Linked DNA regions of Homo sapiens. The protein of the gene in region 3 purifies or fractionates together with the protein of the main gene of each other region. This does not show direct contact. Each region holds a gene or a part of one and is shown on either strand. Other genes may lie near its edges. The genes, in order: SASS6, APOOL, TMEM126A, DIAPH3, ATAD3A, LRBA and MIGA1.

Region 1 (3,500 bases), on a different chromosome or scaffold from region 3:
GCAGGAGAATGGTGTGAACCCGGGAGGCGGAGCTTGCAGTGAGCCGAGATCGCGCCACTGCACTCCAGCCTGAGCGACAGAGCGAGACTCCATCTCAAAAAAAAAACAAAACAAAACAAAAAAAAGAAATGTGCTCTTGAAACTCAGCCTCTGTTCAGAGCAAGTGTGCCTTTGTTCCACTTCCAGGGGCAACTTAAACTCTATTTCAGTGCAATTGTAGGACTCCACTTTGTATTGGTATCAGCACCTTAAATCATGGAAACTTCCTAACAATCTGGAAATACTTTTGTTTCAGGAAATTCACTAAGATCACTCACATCTTGTTTTAAATCTTACCACATTCAGGTTAGGAGAAATTCCACTTCTGATTGTGTTGCTGCTGGAATGTGCAGGCGGAGTAGTAGAAGGTCCCAATACATCTTGCTTTCTCACTAGCTGATTTTCATTTAGTTCTTTATTTAACCACGTGATTACTTAAATAAAAGAACAAGAAGCAAGGTAAAGAATATTGACTGTTTATTTTTCTAATCATCTTAAACATTTAAAAATTATATTAAGATTTTTAAATTATAAGTTTTTACAACTACCTGACATCACAGGAGAGCAATATAGGTTCACCTAAATTTTTGTCATTAAAGTTTCTTATTTTAGAAGCTGCCACATAGGACTCCTTATTGTATTACTTTCCGAAGCACATATTTCTGCTAGTCAAGCAACTCTTTGAAAGATTTCACTTCTAGAATATCTTACAGTTTACTTAAAATTCACAATCTTATGTATGATACCCAGTAGTATAAACTGAGAAAATGTTAGTTAAAATCTTATTTTTATGTTTTGTTTTCAAACAATTCATATTGTTATTATTAGGTAAACACAGCTATTAAAAAAAGGAATAATGAAGAATTTAAACAATAAATTACAGTCAACATTTTCAACAGTTTTAATTGTGGGTTACTGACCTATGGGATATGGTTTTCTTTATAAAGATGATAACTCTTTTACTGGGCAGATGATATAAATTTATTATAGAAAAGGCATTAAGACAGTATATTTAAAGCAGAAATTACTTATATATTGGCCAATGTCTACTTTTATGAATTCGAATAAAATTTTCAGGTTAAGAATAAAACTACAGCCGAGCACGATGGCTAACACCTGTAAACCTAAACGCAGCAATCTGGGAGGCCAAGGCGGGTGGATCACTTGAGCTCAGGAGTTCAAGACCAGCCTGGGCAACATGATAAAATCTCGTCTCTACAAAAAAAACCCACAAAATTAGCTGAGTGTGGTGGTGCACACCTTAGTCCCAGCTACTTGGGGGGCTGAGGCGGGAGGATAACTTGAACCAAAGTGGTGGAGGCTGCAGTGAGCTGAGATCATGCCACTGCACTCCAGCCTCGGTGACAGAGTGAGACCGTGTCTCAAAAAAATAAAAGAATAAAACTACAAACCTCATTTACATTAACACGTAACATACTTACACTTTTCATTATTTTTTAGAAGTTGTTTGCTTTCTTCAAGTTTTTTAACTGTAGCTTCTAATTGTTCTTGTAATTTGCATACCTGAAATATATCAATCATCACAATAAGTCAAGCAAAATAAAGGTTAAATAAAAACTGAAGAATGTATTATTATTAACTAAATAATTACATAAATGGTTACTACTACTATTATTAAATGAGAATAAAGGAATTAGCTCAATTATGTAATAAAATATTTACATGTGTATACAAACATAGACATACATGAGCAATCAAGGTATCTGAATCATGATAACTAACTTTCCAAACTGAAACAGGTTATTACCATCTACTCAATCTAGTCATGTTCTTTTGTTAAAAAAAAAAACAAGACCAAAGCCATTTGTTAATGTAACAAAGCATAAATTTTTAAAACGAGGAAAAAATTTAGTTACAACATAAAAATTTAAAATATTAACTACCTCTTGCTCTTTAATTCGAAGAGACTGTCCAACATCTTGTAATTCCTTTTGTTCCTTTTGTAATTTTTCCTCCTTCTCAGCCAAGAGTTTTTCTTGCTGAATAGTAACTGTATTCTTCAATTTCAACTTACCCATTAAAGTTTTCAGATCCCCTTGTAACTTCTTGATAATTTCATTTGCCTATAAAAGAGCTTCATATGTATATTTCTATGTAATTTAATGAAATACTAGTCTATAAAATTTTTAAAACAAACCTTCAGAAGTTCTGCAGATAATGATTTTATTGTAGCTTCAAGCTTTCCTAGTTGTACTTGATTTTTCTCACCATTTTCTTCTAAAACCACCTGATATATTTTTTAAAAACATGAATAATTAGGGCATTTGTGTTTACTTATAAATATGATTATCAATTTCTGAGAAAAATTTAAAAGTAGACCTTTTGTTCCTGGATTGTATCAAATGCCTCTTTTGTTCTTAAAACAAGCTGGTCCTTATCCTTGATTTCCTGTTCTAAAACTGCCACTTTTGTTTGTAGCTGATTAACGTGCTTTTCTTTCTCGTGGCATTCAACATCTAGTGTAGAATTCTCTCTTCGCAAAGAGAGGACTTCTTGCTTAGTCCGCTGTAGCTCCTAGAATGGGAAAAGAAAGAAATTAAGCATTATGAAAAAAGGAAGCTGCCTCATCTGGTTATTTATAATTAAGATGTCTAACATATTAAAAAAAAGTCTTTAATAATTTTAAAGTTTTAGTACAGATTTTTTTTTAAAAGCATAAATGTCTTTCTAATGGTATAGTAGCATATATCTGGAATATAATTGTAAAATATTCTACTATCTGATTCAATCATATCAAGGGAAAATAATTCTAATTTATGAATAAATTACAGTAACTTTAAAACTTTTAACAATAATTTTCTGATGTCTCCACAACTGATTCCAAGGGTAACCACGGGTGAGAGCCGCCACAATGTAGACTTAACATTTTTCTTTGTTGCTTACATGTACAGATTGTTTTTTAAAGGTTGATACTCTGCAGTTTATAATCTACCTTCTTCACGTATTACAAATATCTTTCTATGTCAATAAATGTTAACATTTCCAGATCTCTCTGTTCACTCTTTCAAGCAAAATAAACAATAATTGTTCATTAAAAATAGATTTTTAAAAAATCTACAATAGATCTCTTCCCAATCAGCTAATATCAACCCAAATGCTGCTGGTATATGAAAGCCCAGGATACAATATTCCTAGATAGTTTTAGTTCTTAACCAAAGTTTCCAAAAATAATTATACAGTATTGTGACTATAGTGGTTTTAGGAGCACAAACTTTAGTATCAAACAAAATTCAAATCCTGGCTCTTCTACTGTGTGATCTTGGTAATTACTGAAACTCCCTAAATTAAATCTCAGTTCCCTCATTTGTAAAACAGAAATAACAAATACTTAATAAATTATTTCATTTAACCTTCATAAAAATCCTTACGTAAATTGCCTAGCATTTTGGCTGGCACACAGTAAAACTCAATAAATGGTAGCAATTGTTATTTTTAGGACA
Region 2 (3,500 bases), on a different chromosome or scaffold from region 3:
AGTCAACAAAGAAACAATGGATTTAAACTACATCCTAGAACAAATGGACTTAGATATTTATAGAACTTATTACCCCAAAACTGCAGAATATACATTCTTTTCATCAGGACATGGAACATTCTCCAAGACAGACCACATGATAGGACACAAAACACTTCTGAATAAATTTAAGAAAATCAAAATCATATTAAGCATCTTTTCAGACCACTGTAGAATAAAACTGAAATAACTCCAAAGGGAACCCTCAAAACTATACAAATACATGTAAATTAAATAATCTACTAATGAATGATCTTTGGGCCAACAATGAAATTAAGATGGAAATTTAAAAAGTCTTTGACCTGAATAACAGTAACACAACTTATCAAAACCTCTGGGATACAGCAAAAGTAGTGCTAAGAGGAAAGTTCATGGTATTAAATGCCTACATCAAGAAGTGTGAAAGAGCCCAAATATTGACAATCAAATATCACACCTCTAGGAACTGGAGAAACAAGGTCAAACTAAACCTAAAGCTAGAAGAAAAGAAATAACAAAATCAGAGCAGGACCAAATAAAATTGAAACAAAAAAATACAAGAGATAAATAAAACAAGGATCTGTTTATTTGAAACGATTAAGAAAACTGATTGACCATTAGAGAGATTAAAGAAGAGAGAATATCCAAATCAGCTCACGTAGAAATGAAAAGGGAGATATTACAACTGATACCATAGAAATGCAAAAGATCATTGAAGGCTACTAAGAACACCTTTGTGCACACAAACTAGAAAACCTAGCATAGATGGATACATTCCCAGAAATACACAATCCTCCTAGATTAAATAAGGAAGAAACAGAAACTGAACAGACCAATAGCGAAATCGAAACAGTAATTTAAAAATTGCCAACAAAAACAGATTCCAGGACCAGATGGATTCACAGCTAAGCTGTATCAGACACTCAAAGAAGAATTGGTACCAATCCTACTGAAACTATTACAAAAAATAAAGAAAGAGGGAGTCCTCCCTAGATCATTCTATGAAGCCAGTATTACCCAAATACCAAAACCAGGAAAGGACATACAAAAAAAAGAAAACTACAGACCAATATCCCTGATGAACACAGATGCAAAAATCCTCAACAAAATACTAGCTAACTGAATCCAAACAGCATATCAAAAAGATGAGCAAGTGGGTTTCATACCAGGGAGGCAGGGATGGTTTAACATACACAGGTCAATAAACGTGATACATCACATAAACGGAATTAAAACTAAAAATCATAAGATCATAAGATCACCTCAACAGAAGCAGAAAAAGCATTTGAAAAACTCCTGGCTCCCTTCATGATAAAAACCTTCTGCAAAACTGGCATAGAAGGGACAGATCTCAAGGTAATAAAAGCCATTTATGACAAACCCACAGCCAATACCATACTAAATGGGGAAAAACTGAAAGCATTCCAATGAGACCTGAAACAACACAAGGATAACCACTGTCACCACTTCTATTCAACATGATACTGGAAGTCCTAGCCAAAGAAATCAGACAAGAGAAAGAAATAAAGGGCACCCAAATCAGAAAAGAGGAAGTCAAACCACTGCTGTTCACCAATGATATGATAGTATACCTAGAAAAGTCTAAGAACTCATCCAAAAAGCTCCTAGATCTAACAAATGATTCAGTAAAGTCTCAGGTTACAAAATCAATGTACACAAATCAGTAGGACTGCTATACACCAACAACGATCAAGCTGAGAATCAAATCAATAATTCAATCCCTTTTACGACAGCTGCAAAACAGAAACAAAAAAATAAACAAACAAAAAAACTTCAGGAGGTGGAAGATCTCTACAAGAAAACTATAAAACACTACTGAAAGAAATTATAGATGACACAAACAAATGGAATCATATCCCATGCTCATGGATGGGTACAATCAATATTGTGAAAATGACCATACTGCCAAAAGTGATCTACGGATTCAATACAATTCACATCAAAATATCATCATCATTCTCCACAGAACTAGAAGAAAACAATCCTTAAATTCATATGGAACCAAAAAAGAGCCCACATAGCTGAAGTAATACTAAGCAAAAAGAACAAATCTGAAGGCATCGTATTACCCAACTTCAAACTATACTACAAACTAGGCTACAGTTACCAAAACATGGTACTGGTATAAAAGTAGGCACGTAGACCAATGGAACACAGTAGAGAACCAAGAAATAAAGCCAAATACTTACAGCCAATTGATCTTAGGCAAAGCAAATAAAAACAGAGTGGGAAAAGCACACACACCCTGTTCAACAAATCATGTTGGAATAACTGGCAAGCCACATGTAGAAGAATTAAACTGGATCCTTATCTCTCACCTTATACAAAAATCAACTCAACATGGATCAAAGACTTAAATCTAAGACCTGAAACCATAAAAATTCCAGAAGATAACATCAGAAAAACTCTTCTAGACATTGGCTTAGGCAAAGAGTAGTTCATGACCAAGAACCCAAAAGCAAATTCAACAAAAACAAAAATAAATAGATGGGACTTAATTAAACTAAAAAGTTTCTACACAGCAAACAAAATAGCAGAGAAAACAGACAACCAACAGAGTGGGAGAAAATACTCATAAACTATGCATCTGACAAAGGACTAATATCCAGTATCTACAAGGAACTCAAACAAATCAAGAAAAGAACAAATAATTTGCATCAAAAAGTAGGTGAAGGTCATGAATAGACAATTCTCAAAATATGCAAATGTCCAACAAACATATGAAAAAATGCTTAACATCACTAATTATCTGGGAAATGGAAATTAAAACCACAATACGATACCATCTCACTCCTGCAAGAATGGCCATAATTAAAAATAAAAAAATAATAGATGTTGGTGTGGATGTGGTGAAAAGGGAACACTTTTACACTGCTGGTGAGAATGTAAGCTAGTACAACCACTATGGAAAACAGTATGGAGATTCATTAAAGAACTAAAAGTAGAACTACTATTTGATCCAGCAACCCCACTACTGGGTATTTACCCAAAGAAAAAAAGTCATTATATAAAAAAGTCACTTGCACATGCATGTTTACAGCAGCACAATTTACAATTGTGAAAATATGTAACCAACCCAAATGCCCATCAACCAATGAGTGGATCAAGAAAATGTGGTATGTATACAACATGGAATAGTACTCAGACATAAAAAGGAAGAAAATAATGGCATTTGCAGCAACCCAGATGAAGTTGGAGAACATTATTCCAAGTGAAGTAACTCAGGTATTGAAAACCAACTATCATGTTTTCACTAATAAGTGGGGGCTAAGCTATCAGGATGCAAAGGCATAAAATTAAGATAATGCACTTTGGGGACTTGGGAATACTGGGAGGGGGTAAGGGACAAAATACTGCACACTGGAGACAGTGTAAACTGCTCAGGTGACAGGTGCACCAAAATCTCAGAAATCACCACTAAAGAACTCACCCATTTAACCTAAAACCACCTGTTCCTGAAA
Region 3 (4,244 bases):
ATCTTTAGCCATGATCCTATTTCTCTGACATTCTCTATCTTGCTATGTGTGTTCTATGGTACTCTTAGACTGGTAAGCATACTGACAGAATGAACTGGGAAAAAAAAGACATTTTAAAAGTTAAAGTTTTGTTATTTAAATGGGTCTGTAAATGTTTACATTTTACTATACTCCAAGCCTAATGGAAAAACTCAAAACATTATACAATTAGGTATGTCCAAAGACATGAGTTCCAGCCTCACCTTCCACAATTAGCTATGTGATGTTGAGCAAAATGGTTAAACGCTCTCATCCAGGCAAGAAAAGGGCAATTTCCTTCTCACATTCCATGTTGTTTATACTCAAACCAGATAAACTTGAGATAATGAATCAATGGTGAAAATCCACCTGATAAAAGGTGTTTTTAAATTAAGAAGGGATCTTACCTTTCTGCTTCTGGAAGCTGGTTAATTTTTCTGGATATATCAACAATTGTTATGTTTTCCTTATTATTGGATTTATGATTTTCCATTTTGAGCCTTAAAAAACATGAAGATATCATTTCTCAAGAATTTATACAAAGAATTTTAAAAACCTTCTGAAGACTAAAAATAATACTGTAGAGCTAATCTGAAAAAAATCATTGCATACATATTATTAAAAAAAAATCTAAGTGAAACAGAAACCAGAACATGAAAAGCAACACATAAAGCTTTTAGGAAATACAGAATATCTTCATAATCCTTGAAAGTATTTCCTAAACAATTCACAAATAGCACTAAACATAAAAGACTTATAAAACTAACAGTATTGAAGTTAAGAACCTATGGTTATCAACATATACCATAAAGATAAGCTAGTGGGGGAGAAAATGCAATAGAACTGACAAAAGAGTAGTTAGTACCCAGAACATACATGGAACTACATATCAACATGAAAAAGGTAAGCAGCCCTACGGAAAAACTGACAAAATATTTGAACAGGCACTTCACAAAAAGGAAAGTTAAATGGCCAATAAACATGAAAATATGCTCACCTTCATTATAACTGGGGGAACAACCCACAGTGAGATACCAATAGGTACCCATAGGTTAGCTAAAATCAAAATCTGACAATTCCAATTATTGGCAAGAATGCGGGGTAGCTAAAACTACATTCTGTGTACATTCTGTGGGGTAGCTTTACCCAAACTGTACAGTCACTTTGGGAAAGAATTTGGTATTATTTAGCAGATAGAAGACACACATAGCTAGCAATTTCATTTCTAGGTATACCTGAGATCAGGGCTCAGCAAACTTTAAAGGGCCAGATGTAAATGTGGTAGGCTTTGCAGGTAACATACAGCCTTTGTTGAATATTTGTTTTTAAAAAAACTATAAAAACATAAAAATCATTCTTAGCTGGGTGGCTGTACCAAGGCAAGCTATAGGCTGCATATGGCCTACATGCCAGTAGTTTGTTGATGTCTGCACTAGTTAGGGTGAAAATGTGAAGGGAATGGTGAATGATGAAGATTTGGCTCAGGTTTCAGGGTAACAGTTAAGAAAAACAAAGGCTGGATGCAGTGGCTCACGCCTGTAATCCCAGCACCTTGGGAGGCCAAGGCAGACGGATCACCTGAGGTCAGGAGTTCGAGACCAGCCTGGCCAACATGGTGAAACTCCCTGTCTTTTAAAAATACAAAAATTAGCCAGGCACGGCGGCAGCTGCCTGTAATCCCAGCTACTCGGGAGGCTGAGGCAGGAGAATCGCTTGAACCTGGGAGGTGGAGGTTGCAGTGTGCCGAGATCTCGCCACTGCACTCCAGCCTGGGTGAGAGCGAGACTCGGTCTACAAAAAAAAAAAAAAAAACAGTTCAGGGATAACAACAAAGGAAAACATGCTTTTATGAAACCAGATTTTCTCATTTCCTACAACATTACAGGCACTCGTTTAAATATTTATTGCTACCTGTTTTATATCGATAAGAGGTCATTTGGAAATGTTGATTACCTTGACATTCCATATCTCTAGACTTAAAGCTAACCTAATAAGTACAAAGCAGCCTTAGAAATTTATGTCTAGGTTTCTGGTAGTCAAATTTTTGAGGGCCTTGGCTACGATAAGATGATAAGACACAATCTCTGCTGTACAGGAGCTCTGAATGATTTTGTGTATGGGGTGGTGAAATATATAATCAAATTTAGTATGTATATATTGTACTGAGGGCAATTAAGTCACTCAATTCAGTATAAGTGCTGACTGGGCAGCCCCTGTGGGCATTTTGTCTCCGATATTAATAACAAATATCTATCAAAGACAACGCCGCCTGTAAAAACTACAAATATTTCGAAAGATTTTTGTGTTACCTATCTCATGTCATTCTTGGAAGAGCTCTGAGAGATAGGCAGTGTGGGGCCTATCTGAAAGAGAAGTAAAGTGGGACCTCTGAAAATCAAATTTGGCCGTGGTCACCTTGTAAATTGACAGTAAACCTGGGATTAAATTCAATCTCAGGCATTTCTCCTTTCTACTGAGTTAATTTAAATATAAGGTCTTTCCTTCTAGAGTGCAAAGTGAAAAGACAGCAGGAAGAGCTAACTACACTTCTACTTGCTCTCATTTACGCGCAGCGCTGCTGGTAGCTAGCGTGTCACCGCGTCGTGCTTCTCCTGACACCGGGACATTTACTTCACCCCCTCCCCCGGAATACCAGTACCTTATGCTCTCCTCCCAGCAGCCTGTGGGTGCCTCCTCCTTCCTCAGCCACGCCGGAGTTCACTGTGGCCTTTGCTCAAATTACCTGGGCGCAGCCATCTTTGGCTGACTCGTGACGCGGCGTGGGCGGGCGCCGGGTCGCGGCTGCTAATTGGACTGCGGGACGGAGGTTGCAGCCAGCAGCGGCTTTGGGCTGAGAAGCTTCCGGCCCTAGGAGGTGCCGGGAGGCTAAGCGTTGAGGTTTGTTTGCCTGGCGTAGAGTGTGCTCGTTTCACCTACTCTTGCCTCCCAGGACAGAACTTGTAGAAATTGTGAAATTTCGAGATATAAGTTGGGTGACCCTCAGTCAGCCTCTTCCATTGAAAACGTACCTCGGGCATATTACTTAACTTCCTGGTCAGTAGAGCCTACTTACGTTCTTGGCATGGGGTAAATGAAAACTGCACAGCTCTTGGCATATGATAGCTACTCAGGTTAAAAATAAGTCAAAGGTGAGCTATTTCTTGGCTCTATCGATTTTCTACTCTCCCTAGGAACTTAAGCTCCCTGTGCCATGTTTTGATCTGTATTGATTGCCCTACCATAATCAGCACCTCAGAGCTGCAGCTTATTTTTCTGAGGATTTCTCGTGTTCTCCAGAGTACTGCTTATTTGGAAGCAGTGTTGGGTGAAAGTCATCTTATTTCTTCTTGCTTTTTAAGTATAAATACTAGAAAATTTAGAATTATATATGTGGCTTGCATTATATTTCTATTGGACAGTGCTGTTCAGAAGGTACCTCTAATGCTCTCCTCCCAGCAGCCAGTGGATGCCTCACCAGGTCTTCCTCAGCCATGCTGGGGCTCCCTGCAACCTTTGCTCAGTTCGCTTGGACTAATTAACCCAATAGAAGGGAAAAATGCCTACAATTGAATTTTATCTTAACTCCATTAAGATTAGCAGGTAAACATTGTGCCAAAAAATATATAACTAACTGTAGCAATAAATACATGATCATAACACATTATCAGAAATCTTAATTATTCTCATCCTCTCAAATTTCTGAACAAGTGATAAAGTGTTGCATTGTCCAGATAATTTTTATACTGTCTCTCCATTGCAGGGTTGCTTGACCATTAGGCTCCATAGTGCCAAGAAGTCTGTAATTGCAGTTTCTAAACTTGCACAAATAGAAAGACTTATTTTCACGAAGGTGTACAAGAAGGAAAATTCCTAGTCTTTTTTTTATTTTTATTTTTTATTTTTTAGACAGAGTTTTGCTCTCGTCGGCCAGGCTGGAGTGCAATGGCCTGATCTCAGCTCATTGCAACTTCTGCCTTCCAGGTTCAAGCGATTCTCCTGCTTCAGCCTCCAGAGTAGCTGGGATTACAGGCGTGTGCCACCACGCCCAGCTGATCAGCTGATTTTTTTTTTTGTTTTTGAGACTGAGTCTCGTTCTGTCACCCAGGCTGGAGTGTAGTGGTGTGATTTCGGCTCACTGCAAGCCCCGCCTCCTGGGTTCACAGCATTCTCCTGCCTCAGCCTCCCAAGTAGCTGGGACTACAGGCTCCTGCCACCACGCCTGGCTA
Region 4 (3,500 bases), on a different chromosome or scaffold from region 3:
AGAATTTCCACTGTGGTCTTTTTATAGTTTCTGTTTCTCTACAGAGGTTTCCTATCATTTCATTCATTGTGAGCATATTTCATTTATATTCTTAAATATGGTTATACAACTGCTTTAAAATCCTTGTCTATTAATGCTTACAACTGAGTTATCTTGAGACTGGTCTCCATTGATTCCTTTTTCTTGTTTGTATGGGTCACATTTTCCTGTTTTTTCCTAATGTCAAATACCTTTGCACTGTATCCTGAACATTGTGAATGTATGGTGTAGGGACTCTGAATTCCTTCTATTCTTCTGAGAAGTATTGCTTTTTGTGTTTGTTTTAGCAGGCAGTTAACTTGGCTGAACTCTCAAACTGCACATACTGTCCCATCCGCTGGATGGGACCTGAAATCTTAGTTCAGATATGTTAGCCCTACCTGTGCTGCTTGGAGTCTGTCCCATACATGTAGGGTTCAGAAATTTGAGGACTCTACACACAGAATTTGGGGCTACCCATTTGTGGCTCCTTCTCCTCTCCAGGATTTTCTCCTCATTTATCAGCTATATGGTCACCAGAACTCTGCCCTCTGGTTTTTTATGCCAGTACAACTGTGGGCTTATATTCTAGTTTTAACCACCCCACATGACCCTGATTAGGGGCTTCCCTTATGCAAAAAGCTACAAAAAATGACAAACTTATCCAGTGCTAGTCCCTTCTTCCAAGTATTGTCTCCAATAGCCATGTCTTTTGATCACTCTCCAGTGTTTTAATAGTTGCTTTTTATAATTTTGTCATGTGAGAGGTCTGTGGTCCAATGAGATCTCAGCCAATACTGGATGCAAAGTTTTTGTTAGTTCCTTTTTACAGAGCAAAGACATCTTTCTCAGAATTCCCCAGCAGATTTCTCCTTTAGCTTACTGGCTAGAATTGTTTTCATCTGCTCTTTGTTAATCCTCTTTGTTCTGGGGCCTGCATGCCTGGAAGGATTTGGCTGCAACACACTGGCTGGTATACATTAATGAGTTGGGTTACAGCTTATTCATTAAGCTTGTGAGCTTAGTTAATGTGTATCCACCTCAGACATAGATTCAATCTCCATGTGCTGACCATATCACTGTCCAAGGCCCCAGATGTCCAGATGTGTGGAACTTTGGGGCTGCCTCCTCCTGGTGGAGTTCAACAGGCCCAGGCAGAGGTTGCTTGAACCACCTGTGGTTGCCCCAGCTAAAAGGGGAGAAGCAGCCACATTCCACAATCTGGACTGGCTGGGAAGCTGAGCAGGGAGTTCTAGAGTGGCAGCCCAAACTCAGGCAGGCAAGCACTGAAGGATGGTTCCTCATCCTCCCAGCAGGAGGTTGGAGGCTATGAGATACCCTGTCTCTCAGGGGCTGGAAGAGCAAAGAGCAGTATCTCTTTCAGACATCCTGCTGTCAGAAGTTACACCACAGCACAGTCATACATTGGGTTTAATTGTTGCTCCTGCCTGGCCCCTCTTAAAAAAAAAAAAAAAAAAAAAAAAAACCAAATAACCTGTAAAGTCATTTTTTGCCATATAAGGTAACATTCACAGGTTCCAGGGATTAAGGAGTGTCTACCTTTCAGAAGATCATTGTTCGGCCTACTACACCTGCTTCCAAATAACCCAAAGTAATTGGCAAACATGCACTAATCTCATTAAGCTTACTGGGATTTCATCTGTACTCAAATTCCTACTACGTGTACAATCAACAAAAATTCTCCAACCTTGTATATCTTCTCACCTCGCAGCCTGCCTATAATCAGAAAATCAATTCTATATTCATATTATATATTAATTAAAGGCATCACTAATTATTGCTAATGGTTCCTGGATGAGAAAAGAAGCAGTAAAGATTAAAGTTCCCAACAGCTATGGGAGAGAATTCAGGACAGTGATTAAGAATGTGTATTCTAGGCCAGGTGCGATGGCTCACGCCTGTAATCCCAGCACTTTGGGAGGCCGAAGCGGGTGGATCACTTGAGGTCAGGAGTTCAAGACCTGCCTGGCCAACATGGTGAAGCCTCATCTCTACTAAAAATACAAAATTAGCCGGGCGTAGTGACACGTGCCTGTAATCCCAGTTACTAGAAGGCTGAGGCAGGAGAACTGCTTGAGCCCAGGAGGTAGAGGTTGCAGTGAGCCAAGATTGTGCCACTGCACTCCTGTCTGGGCAACAGAATGAGACTTTGTCTCACAAAAAAAAAAAAAGAAAGAAAGAAAGAATGTATACTCTGAAGCCAGCTTGCCTAGATTCAAATCTCAGCCTCATGAACTGGCAGCTGTGTGATTTTAGGCAGCTTAATCTCTGTGTACCTTGGTTTCCTCCTATGGCAAACAAGATTAATAATACTACCTACCTCACAAGGTTGTTCTAAGAATTAAAGGAGTTGATAATTACAACGCACCTAGAACAGTGCTTGGCTCACTCAGAAAGGTTAACTAGTATTACCATCAATGCCCAAACATGGTAAATATACAGAAATTAAAGGACAAGGTGAAAAAATCTCAAAACCGGCCAGGCGCGGTGGCTCACGCCTGTAATCCCAGCACTTTGGGAGGCCGAGGTGGGCGGATCACGAGGTCAGGAGTTCGAGACCATCCTGGTTAACACGGTTAACCCCGTCTCCACTAAAAATACAAAAAATTAGCCGGGCGTTGCGGTGGGCACCTGTAGTCCCAACTACTCGGGAGGCTGAGGCAGGAGAATGGCATGAACCCGAGAGGCGGAGCTTGCAGTGAGCCGAGATCACGCCTCTGCACTCCAGCCTGGGCGACAGAGCAAGACTCCGTCTCAAAAAAAGAAAAAAAAGAAAAGAAAAATCTCAAAACCAACACTGAAGGTACTACAATGACATAATCAATCAATAATTAACAATCTATTTGATGGAAACGATTAGACGATTTACACTGAAGTCTGTGAGAACTTTTAGAGGACTCTCCTAATTAAAAAGAACTCCTTCATCAACTTGGACCACCAATTTACAGGCTCCCTTTGAATGGACTGACCTACATCCTAGAGATGGACACTTCTAGAAGCCACATGTCCTGCTCTGCCACCACTACCTGTGTGTTGCCAAGAGTAATGAGAAACAGGTATTACTGAAAGGCTTTCCACAATCTGTAGGACAACTGTTCTGTTCTACAAAGGATATAGGACTCAGGTCCAGGTATTGAGTGTGGCCTAGGGCAGGTTCCAAGTTTAATTCCTACGGAATTTTATCTGCCTTCACAAAGTCTCCACCCAGATACTTGCCCTGTCCTCTCAGCCTCCTCCATCTCTCTTCTATGCCCCAGTAGCTATCCCTACCATCTCAATGCTCACGGCTTAAGATATTTTCAAATGAGACCAAGTTGGTTAATTCACAAGCATCCCAAAGTCAATTGATTCGTAGCACAGCCAAAGTATCATACAATTACAATAGACTAATTTCTACTATTTATACTTATCTATGGGAAGAGATATCTAAGCTACAAACTCTTTTACCCAACTCACAAGTG
Region 5 (3,012 bases), on a different chromosome or scaffold from region 3:
TAATAAAAAAATTATACACCCTGACCAAGCAGGATTTATTCCTGGAATGCAAGGATAGTTCAACGTACAAAAATCAATCAATGTTCCACATAAAAAATGTTCAACATACAAAAATCAATCAATATTAGCCGAGTGGAGGAAGGAAACTACATGACCCTCTCATCTGATGCAGGAAAAGCATTCGACCAAATTCAAAACCCTTTTATGAGAAAAGAATTCAAGATGCCGTGCATGGTGGCTCACACCTGTAATCCCAGCACTTTGGGAGGACAAAGGGGGCAGATCACCTGAACTCAAGGAGATCCACTGCCTCAGCCTCCCAAAGTGCTGTGGTTACAGGTGTGAGCCACCGTGCCCAGCCCAAATTATTATTTTATTTTTTATTTTTTTATTTTTGAGACAGAGTCTTGCTCTGTCGCCCAGGCTGGAGTGCAGTGGTGCGATCTCGGCTCACTGCAAGCTCTGCCTCCCGGGTTCATGCCATTCTCCTGCCTCAGCCTCCCAAGTAGCTGGGACTACAGGCACCCGCCACCACATCTGGCTAATTTTTTTTTTGTATTTTTTATTAGAGATGGGGTTCCACCGTGTTAGCCAGGATGGTCTTGATTTCCTGACTTCATGATCCGCCCATCTCGGCCTCCCAAAGTGCTGGGATTACAGGCATGAGCCACCGCGCCCGTCCAGCCCCAGTTATTATTATTTTTAGTTTTCGTTTTCGTTTTTTGGGATGGAGTCTCACTGTGTTGCCAGGCTGGAGTGCAGTGGTGCAATCTCGGCTCTTTGCAACCTCCGCCTCCCGGGTTCAAGTGATTCTCCTGCCTCATTCTCCCAAGTAGCTGGGATTACAGGCATGCGCCACCACACCCAGCTAATTTTTGTATTTTTAGTAGAGATGGGGTTTCACCATTTGGCCAGATGGTCTCCATCTCTTGACCTCGTGATCTGCCCGCCTTGGCCTCCCAAAGTGCTAGGATTACAGGTGTGAGCCACTGCACCTGGCCTATTACTATTTTTTTAAGATGGAGTCTCACGCTATTGCTCAGGCTGGAGGGCAGTGGCACCATCTCAGCTCACCGCATCCTCCGCCTCCTGGATTCAAGAGATTCTCCTGGCTCAGCCTCCTGAGTAGCTGGGACTACAGGCATACACCACAAATGTGCCGGGGTAATTTTTGTATTTTTAGTGGAGGTGAGATTGGCCTTGTTGGCCAGGCTGCTCTCAAACTCCTGACCTCAGGTGTATGATATTCTCACTTCAGCCTCCCAACGTGCTGGGATTACAGGAGTGAGCCACCGCACTCGTTCCAAATTATTCTTAGTTTTTTTTTTTTTTTTTTTTTTTTTTTGAGACGGAGTCTCGCTCTGTCGCCCAGGCTGGAGTGCAGTGGCGGGATCTCGGCTCACTGCAAGCTCCGCCTCCCGGGTTCATGCCATTCTCCTGCCTCAGCCTCCCAAGTAGCTGGGACTACAGGCGCCCGCCACTACGCCCGGCTAATTTTTTGTATTTTTAGTAGAGACGGGGTTTCACCGTTTTAGCCGGGATGGTCTCGATCTCCTGACCTCGTGATCCGCCCGCCTCGGCCTCCCAAAGTGCTGGGATTACAGGCGTGAGCCACCGCGCCCGGCCATTATTCTTAGTTTTTAAGACAGGGTCTTGCTCTGTAATCCAGGCTGGAGTGCAGTGGCAATCACAGCTCACTGCAGCCTCCACCTCCTGGACTCAAGTGATCCTCCCACCTCAGCCTCCCAAGCAGCTGGCATTACAGGCATGTGCCACCAGGTCCAGCTAATTTTTTCATTTTTTGTAGAGATGGGGTCTTGCCTTGCTTTCCAGGCTGGTCCTAAACCCCTGGCTTCAAATAATCTAACTTGGCCTCCCCAAATGCTGGGAATACAAGCGTCAGCCACCACCATACCCGGCCTCTGCTTTCTTAGTTGTGGAAACAGACCTGGTTCCAAGTGGGGATGGCCTGGAACAGAGACCTCAGCTGACCCACAAGGACGGGGTTTGAGATCTGGGGCTCTTTGTCACAGTGGCATAACCCAGCCTGTACTGACTAATACAGCCCCCTGTGAACCCCGGCTCCAACATTCAAATCAAGGTACTCGGCTGCTTCATTAAGCTGTCACACGTTCATTCAAAAGCACTGCTAGATTGAGGAACCAGGTTGTTACACAGACTCTGCGGACCCCAGAGGTGGTGATGCCTGTGCGTGGCCAGGGTGCCTTCTGCCCCACCAACCTGGTTTTGCTTTTCCAGCAACCCCCAAAGACCAAAGCTTTCTGGATGGCCACGCCCACACTCCTGTGAGTCCTGGCTCCTCAGCCCTGGAGCAGCCACGGAGCTGCAGGAGGGGTGTCCCCGAAGAACAACTGGCTGTGGGACAACCAGAGGCCACTCCCACCCATGTGTCAAGCAGGACCAAGCCCACAGACTTGGTCCAGAAAACACAATGTCCCTCCACCCCGAACCCCCAACTCACATGGGGCCTGTCCTAACGACCATTTACACAGGGAGGTGCCTATTGGCCAAGGTGAGAGTCAGAAGCCTCCAGCCCCACCTGGCAAAGCTCGGGCTACGGCGATGCCAGACTGGCCTCCAGAGAGCCCCGGGTGACTGTCAGCCACCGACATGGCTCCACCCTCCTGAGGGCACGAGCAGGTGCGCGATGCCTCGTGGAGTGGCCTGACTGGGGCAGGGGGCCCTGTGTCACCTCTGTGCACTGAAAACCCCTCAACAGAAGCTCCCGCGTGACACCGGTGCTGGGACAGGCCTGGCGCAACTGAGCATCTCCACAGCAGCTGGGGTCCCGTCTGGGTGGACGTGCCGGAGCCTGACTCACCTGCCAGGACACGGCCAGCTGAGCGATCTCCCGGCCCGACATGCCCTCCGTCAGCCGAGCGACCTCCGAGCACTTCCTCCCGTAGTCAAACTGGGCCAGCTTCAGGCGCCTGGGGAAGGAGTTCCCAAGTGGGCCGGCCAAGGCAGCAGCTCCCACAACACGAGGTGGAG
Region 6 (3,500 bases), on a different chromosome or scaffold from region 3:
CCTTGGCTCAAGTGATCCTCTCCCTTCAGCCTCTCCAGTAGCTGGGACTGCAGGCATGTACCTTTGTTCCTGGCTAAAAGTATTCTTAGCTTTAACATTTTGAAACCAAATAGCATTTATTACTTTAAAAAATTTAAAATAATAATAAGTTTTCATTACAGGAAATCTTGAACCCAGCAGAAATGCATACACACAGAAAACAAAAATTATCCATTATCCAAACACCTATGTATAACTTATTAACATTTTAGTGCGAGACCTTTTAGTCTTCTCTTCTATACATGAATCTATACATAACATATAATTATTTGCTAACAAAATGTGATCGTATTTTTACTATTTTAGAGTATTATTTAATGATATGCTTCTTACATGAATTTTAATGCCTGCATATTATATGACATTATGGAGAAGTAAAGAGCATAAGATTCAGCTTTGATATAACATTTGAATGTTATCAGACCACTTAAAATTCTAGGAAGGAGTGACCGTGTAAATGATTCAAGTTTTCTTTTTATATTCTGGCATTCTCCAAAATTGTATTTAGAAAAATTGATGGAAGAGAGATTTAAAAAATCTATTGATTTATATTATAATCATACTTTATCTGTTCCTTATCATTGACCAATGATGAGCCTGGTTCAATACTGTAACCCTTATTTTGTAGGATAAATTCCTGTAAGTGGAATTTCCAGAGGAAGGAGTCTGTACATGTTTTAAAAAGTTTTTAGTAGATATTGCTAAATTGCCCTCTAAAAATTTGTACCAGTTTATACGCTAGATTTGCATGAAAGCATCTGTTTAGACTGTTTTTAAGAAATTAAAATTGATCAAAATGACTGTTTTAAAAATGAAAAGATTAGAAGTTATTTGCTGCAATATTCTTTTGTCAGTGTTCTTCCTATCTTTATAAATGGGGATTGTACTACCAACCTTTAGAATTGCTCTTAATTATGTCAGTAATGCTTGATTTTACCATTATATCTGTTACCTATACCATTGTTATACATCAGAGTCTTTATAAAAGATCTCATTAATGTGGTGGCAATCATTTTGACTTATGCTCATTGATAATACATATGGGAAGATCCACCTGTTTTTAAAGATATATCTTATTTATCAAAGGTTGGTAACTTAATCAGAAGTTAACATCATATTTAGCTGGTATTTTCATATGAAAACAGACACTGAAAAAGATGCCTTTGCTTAAAAACAAAGTCAGTTGCTAAACATTGCCTAACAGTTTAAAATGTCTAAATTTTACAGGTTATACGGTTTTAATGTATAGATTAAAAAGATAATATTAACATCTGGATGTATTGTGTTTATCTTTTATCTACTAATTAGTAAATTTGAGTGCCAATTAAGTTGAAAATAATGGCAAAAGAAATGTTATAGTCATTAGCTCACAAGTATCTTTAACTAGTAGTTTATAGAAGTGCTTTCCAAACATTACAAACAGCTATAGATTAGCTATCAAATGATTGTGAAGATTAATGACTAGTCTTTTAGCTGGGTAATTTAGAACAATATCTGGCAATTAATTGGAAATTATCAGTTTTAAAGTCACAAATATCTTAAGGAAAACAGCATCCAAAAAGATAATACTGATAGTTGTTCAATTGCAATTTAGCTTTTAGACCATTGGATGAATTAAATTAAGGGCAAATTTAAAAACCAAATGACTTTAGAATTTTAAAAGCATTTCAGATTCTGAAGGTAAATGCTTTTCTATCTGTGGTTTTATACTCTGACTATTAATCAAGTATGAAGCGAGAATAAATACCTTTTCAGGATTTGAGATCTCAAAACATTTATATACATCCTTTCTTAAGAAGGCACTGCAGGATATTGCACAAAAGGAGAGAATAATACAAAGAGGAAGAAATGAAATATAAGAAACAAGAGACAACATAGAAGAGAGATGAAGGGGATCTCCAGGACTGTAGAAAGGGAGATCCCAATAGCAGCTATGTAGTAGGCAGATGACAGTCCATCTGGACTGGAGCAGTTTCACTCAGGAGAGGTGGACCTGTATTCTTATTAGGAGTACTTAGCTTGCTTGCCTTCATCATGTGCTGATTAAATTCCTGTTTTCCTGTCTAATGTGAATCACCTGAAGATTCTCACTTCACTCCACAAAGACATGCTGTGCTTCGACCTACTTCTTAGGGTAGAGGTTCACCATGGTGAGCTTAGAATTGAAAAATATAAAGTATTTCATGCCAATACACTCTACCTGGCACACACTGCCTCTGATAGGTTCTCCAGTTCTCTTGACCTCTATATTTCCTGTATTTCCTAATGACTTGCCTATAAGACTTCCCAGAAATGGCTTTACATATTCTCTCAAATAAGCTGAAGCCCTGCTGCAACTCACAGATTCTGTGTATCTTGTCTTTTCTTGGGAGCTCAGGTGTGGCAGTATTGCTCTTTAAAATACAATTGGCTAGGTTTGTGTTAGACTTAGTTTTTTAAACTAAACATAATGGGTATGTTTAGTATATAGATAGTAAAACTATCTTTTAAAATTATCTCCCAAAGCTCTGACCTCCAGGTAAAACTATTTATAAACAGTGAACGATAGAAATACCAGGATAGTGATTTTTTTCTGATTGTAGTGGAGAAATAGGGAGTACAGTTTGGGCAGGGCACATAGGGGAATTGTGAGGTACTGGTAACGTTTTACTTCTTGACATGGGTGGTAGGCATGTGAGATTAAAAAAAATTGTTTCTTAACCTGTACATATAAATTACATATACTCATGTTTATTGATCCATTGTATAATACAAATTCTAAAAACCTTTAATATAAATAAAATCAAAGCAAATGATTATTGAAAACTAAAGTCATTCTATAACACAGGCTATTGTAGAAATAAATGGCCTATTTTCAAAATGACTGTGAGGTTGGTAATATGTAACTTGCTTTCTTTTGACAATGATAATTGTTTGTTGGTGGAGAAATGCTCTCTCTAAAGTCAGTTTTCCAAAAAGTAGGCTAACCAGTCTTATTTTTTTGGAGACAGAGTCTCACTCTGTCACCCAGGGTGGAGTGCAGTGGTGCTATTTTGGCTCACTGCAACCTCTGCCTCCTGGGTTGGGTTCAAGCAATTTTCCTGCCTCAGCTTCCTGAGTAGCTGGGATTACAGGTGTGTGCCACCATGCCCAGCTAATGTTTGTGTTTTTAGTAGAGACAATGTTTCACCATGTTGGCCAGGCTGATCTCAAACTCCTGACCTCAGGTGATCTGCCCACCTTGGACTCCTAAAGTGCTGGGATTACAGGCGTGAGCCACCGTGCCCAGCCACTGATCTTTTAAAAAGGGAAATCAGATTGTCTTCCCTACACTCTTAATTCTCAAATGGCTCTCTCAGAATAAAATACAGTCTTTAATACAGTCTATAATGTTCTACAATCATAATCTAGCTCGTGGCCACATCTTTGACCTCATTTTCTTTAGTTCTCAGTTTATTGCTTTATTGTTATTCATCATACAT
Region 7 (3,500 bases), on a different chromosome or scaffold from region 3:
AGCCACAGCCCAAGCTCTATGGTGGCCCCTTTCAACCATGGCTAGAGTGGCTGGGATGCAGGGCACCAAGTCCCTAGGCTGCACACAGCACGGGGACACTGGGCCTGGCCCCTGAAACCACTTTTTCCTCCTAGGCCTCCTGGCTGGTGATGGGAGGGGCTGCCGTGAAGACCTCTGACATGCCCTGGAGACATTTTCCCCATTATCTTGGGGATTAACATTTGGCTTCTCTTTACTTATGCAAATTTCTGCAGCCTGCTTGAACTTCTCAGAAAATGGAATTTTCTTTTCTATGGCATTGTCAGGTTGCAAATTTTCCAAACTTTTGTGCTCTGCATCCCTTATAAAACTGAATGCCTTTAACAGCACCCAAGTCACCTCTTGAATGCTTTGCTGCTTAGAGGTTTCTTCTGCTAGATACCCTAAATCATCTCTCTCAAGTTCAATGTTTCACAGATTTCTAGGTCAGGGGCAAAATGCCACCAGTCTCTTTGCTAAAATATAGTAAGAGTCACCTTTGTGCCAGTTCCCAATGAGTTCCTCATCTCCATCTGAGACCACCTCAGCCTCACTTTATTATTCATATCACTATCAGCATTTTGAGCAAAGCCATTCAACAAGACTCTAGGAAGTTCCAAACTTTCCCACATTTTCCTCTCTTCTTCTGAGCCCTCCAAACTATTTGAACCTCTGCCTGTTATCCCGTTCCAAAGTCACATCCACATTTTTGGGTATCTTTTCAGCAGCACCCCACTCTACTGGTACCAATTTACTGTATTAGTCCATTTTCATGCTGCTGATAAAGACATACCTGAGACTGGGCAATTTACAAAAGAAAGCTTTATTGGACTTACAGTTCCATGTAGCTGGGGAGGCCTCACAATCATGGCGGAAGGTGAAAGGCACGTCTCACATGGCAGCCGCAAGAGAGAGTGAGAGCCAAATGAAATGGGTTTCCCCTTATCAAACCATCAGATCTCGTGAGACTTATGCGCTGTCATGAGAACAGCAAGGGAAGGACTTGTCCCCATGATTCAATTACCTGCCACTGGGTCCCTCTCACAACACATGGGAATTCAAGATGAGATTTGGGTGGGGACACAGCCAAACCATATCAAAGGTAGTATATCCTTCTGGTTTTGATTTGTATTTCCCTGATGATGTTGAGCATCTTCTCATGTGCTTATTGACCATTTATATGTATCCTTTGAAGAAATGTATATTTTAGTCCTTTGCCCTTTTTTTTTTTTTTTGTAAGACAGAATCTCACTCTGTTGCATGGGCTGGAATGCAGTGGTGCAATCTCACTGCTCACTGCAGCCTCGGCCTCCTGGGTTCAAGCAATTCTCCCTGCCTTAGCCTCCTGAGTAGCTGAGATTACAGGCGCCTGCCACCATACCTGGCTAATTTTTGTATTTTTAATAGAGTCAGGGTTTTGCCATGCTGGCCAGGCTCGTCTGGAACTCCTGACCTCAGGTGATCTGCCCGCCTCCGCCTCCCAAAGTGTTGGGATTACAGGTGTGAGCCACTTGTGCCTGGCCCCTTTGCCCATTTTTGAAATTGTTTTGTTCTCGTGGAGTTTTAGTTCTCTGTATAGTCTGGATATTAATTCCTTGTTAGTTATATGATTTCCATATATTTCTCCAATTCTGTGAATTACTTTTCTTTTCTTTTTTTTTTTTTTTGAGATGGAGTCTCACTCTGTCACCCAAGCTGGAGTGTAGTGGTGCAGTCTTGGCTCACTGCAACCTCTGCCTCCTGGGTTCAAGCAATTCTCCTGCCTCAGCCTCCCGAGTAGCTGGTATTACAGGTGCCTGCCACCACACCTGGCTAATTTTTGTATTTTTTCTTTTTTTTAGACAGAGTCTCGCTTCTTCACCCAGGTTAGAGTGCAATGGCGCAATCTCGGCTCACTGCAACCTCCGCTCACTGCAACCTCCGCCTCCTGGGTTCAAGCAATTCTTCTGCCTCAGCTTCCCAAGTAGCTGGGATTATAGGCATGTGCCAGCATGCCTGGCTAATTTTTGTATTTTTAATAGAGATGGGGTTTCACCATGTTGGCCAGGCTGGTCTTGAACTCCTGACGTCAAGTGATCCGCCTGCCTTGGCCTCCCAAAGTGCTGGGATTATAGGCATGAGCCAGTGTACCTGGCCTAATTTTTGTATTTTTAGTAGAGACGGGGTTTCACTATGTTGGCTAGGCTGGTCTCGAACTCCTGACCTTAAGCGATCCACCCACCTTGGCCTCCAAAGTGCTGGGATTACAGGCATGAACCACGGTGCCCAACCCTGTGAATTACTTTTTTATTCTGTTGATGGTGTCTTTTGATGCACAAAATTTTAAAATTTTCATCAAGTCTTGTTTGTATCTTTTTTTTGTTGCCTGTGTCTTCATTGTCATATTTAAGAAGTCATTGCCAAATCCGATGTTGTGAAGCTTCTTAGGGTTTTAGGACTTATATTTAGGTCTTTGATCCATTTTGAGTTAATTTTTGTATGTATTATTAGGTAAGGGTCCAGTTTTCCCTATACCATTTGTTGAAAAAACTCTCCATTTCCGACTGAATGGTCTTGCACCCCTGTGGAAAATCATTTGATGATATATGTGAGGTTTTATTTCTGTGCCCTTGATGCCAGTACCTTACTGTTTTGATTACTGTCGCTTTATAGTGAGTTTTGAAATTAGGAAATGTGAGTCCTCCAGCTTTGTTCTTCTTTTTCAAGTTTATTTTGGCTATTCTAAGTCCCTTGAGATTCCGTATGACATTTAGGATGGGTTTTTCTATTTCTGCCAAAAAATCATTGGGATTTTGATAGAGACTGCATTGAATCTGTAGATTGCTTTGGGTAGTATTGACATCTTAACAATGTTAAGTCTTCTAATCTATGAACATGGGATGTGTTTCTGTTTATTCATGTTTTCTTTAATTTCTTTCAGCAACGTGTATATATATATATTTTTAAATTGTAGAAGTCTTTCACATCTTTGGTTAATTCCTAAGTATTGTATTCTTTTGGATAATAATCTAAATGGAATTGTGGGGGGCGGTTGCTTTTTTTTTTTTTTTTTTTTCTTTGAGACGAGGTCTTGCTTTGTTGCCCGGGCTGCAAATCCCGGCAGTAAGTCATGGCTCACTGCAGCTGAATCCTCCCAGGCTCAGGTGATCCTTCCACCTTAGCCTCCCAAGTAGCTTGTACTACAGGAGTGTACCAACACACCCAGCTAATTTTTTTTATTTTTTGTAGAGACAGGGTTTTACCATCTTGCCCAGGCTGGTCTCAAACTCCTGGATTCAAGCGATCCTCCCGTATTGGCCTCCCAAAGTGCTAGGATAATGGGTGTGAGCCACCGTGTTTGGCTTTCTCTCTCTTTCTCTTTTTTTAACCAGATTTTAAAATAACAAGATGGTTCTGTAGTATCCTTCACAGCCAATCAATGAAAGTTTTTTAAAAATCGTTTTGATCTTATGGATTTAATTGTATTTGATGTTTTAAACCAT

The links.
Region 1: the proteins of TMEM126A (region 3) and SASS6 purify together in Homo sapiens (affinity purification with mass spectrometry; one large-scale study listed by BioGRID and IntAct). This does not show direct contact.
Region 2: the proteins of TMEM126A (region 3) and APOOL purify together in Homo sapiens (co-immunoprecipitation; one large-scale study listed by IntAct). This does not show direct contact.
Region 4: the proteins of TMEM126A (region 3) and DIAPH3 purify together in Homo sapiens (affinity purification with mass spectrometry; one large-scale study listed by BioGRID and IntAct). This does not show direct contact.
Region 5: the proteins of TMEM126A (region 3) and ATAD3A purify together in Homo sapiens (tandem affinity purification; one large-scale study listed by IntAct). This does not show direct contact.
Region 6: the proteins of TMEM126A (region 3) and LRBA purify together in Homo sapiens (affinity purification with mass spectrometry; one large-scale study listed by BioGRID and IntAct). This does not show direct contact.
Region 7: the proteins of TMEM126A (region 3) and MIGA1 purify together in Homo sapiens (affinity purification with mass spectrometry; one large-scale study listed by BioGRID and IntAct). This does not show direct contact.

The regions. Positions count from the first base shown.
Region 1 is NC_000001.11:100,105,431-100,108,930, forward strand, and holds part of SASS6 (spindle assembly abnormal protein 6 homolog), read right to left. Parts: intron 2,575-3,500; coding exon 2,380-2,574; intron 2,288-2,379; coding exon 2,198-2,287; intron 2,124-2,197; coding exon 1,944-2,123; intron 1,564-1,943; coding exon 1,482-1,563; intron 474-1,481; coding exon 337-473; intron 1-336.
Region 2 is NC_000023.11:85,010,377-85,013,876, reverse strand, and holds part of APOOL (MICOS complex subunit MIC27 precursor), read right to left. Parts: intron 1-3,500. UniProt on the Homo sapiens protein: Component of the MICOS complex, a large protein complex of the mitochondrial inner membrane that plays crucial roles in the maintenance of crista junctions, inner membrane architecture, and formation of contact sites to the outer membrane.
Region 3 is NC_000011.10:85,646,523-85,650,766, reverse strand, and holds the start of TMEM126A (transmembrane protein 126A), read right to left. Parts: upstream 2,801-4,244; 5' UTR 2,678-2,800; intron 519-2,677; 5' UTR 512-518; coding exon 426-511; intron 1-425. UniProt on the Homo sapiens protein: Protein required for the cotranslational protein quality control in the inner membrane of the mitochondria.
Region 4 is NC_000013.11:60,157,429-60,160,928, forward strand, and holds part of DIAPH3 (protein diaphanous homolog 3), read right to left. Parts: intron 1-3,500. UniProt on the Homo sapiens protein: Actin nucleation and elongation factor required for the assembly of F-actin structures, such as actin cables and stress fibers. Required for cytokinesis, stress fiber formation and transcriptional activation of the serum response factor.
Region 5 is NC_000001.11:1,529,162-1,532,173, reverse strand, and holds part of ATAD3A (ATPase family AAA domain-containing protein 3A), read right to left. Parts: intron 2,952-3,012; coding exon 2,843-2,951; intron 1-2,842. UniProt on the Homo sapiens protein: Essential for mitochondrial network organization, mitochondrial metabolism and cell growth at organism and cellular level. May play an important role in mitochondrial protein synthesis. May also participate in mitochondrial DNA replication.
Region 6 is NC_000004.12:150,854,785-150,858,284, reverse strand, and holds part of LRBA (lipopolysaccharide-responsive and beige-like anchor protein), read left to right. Parts: intron 1-3,500. UniProt on the Homo sapiens protein: Involved in coupling signal transduction and vesicle trafficking to enable polarized secretion and/or membrane deposition of immune effector molecules. Involved in phagophore growth during mitophagy by regulating ATG9A trafficking to mitochondria.
Region 7 is NC_000001.11:77,786,149-77,789,648, forward strand, and holds part of MIGA1 (mitoguardin 1), read left to right. Parts: intron 1-3,500. UniProt on the Homo sapiens protein: Regulator of mitochondrial fusion: acts by forming homo- and heterodimers at the mitochondrial outer membrane and facilitating the formation of PLD6/MitoPLD dimers. May act by regulating phospholipid metabolism via PLD6/MitoPLD.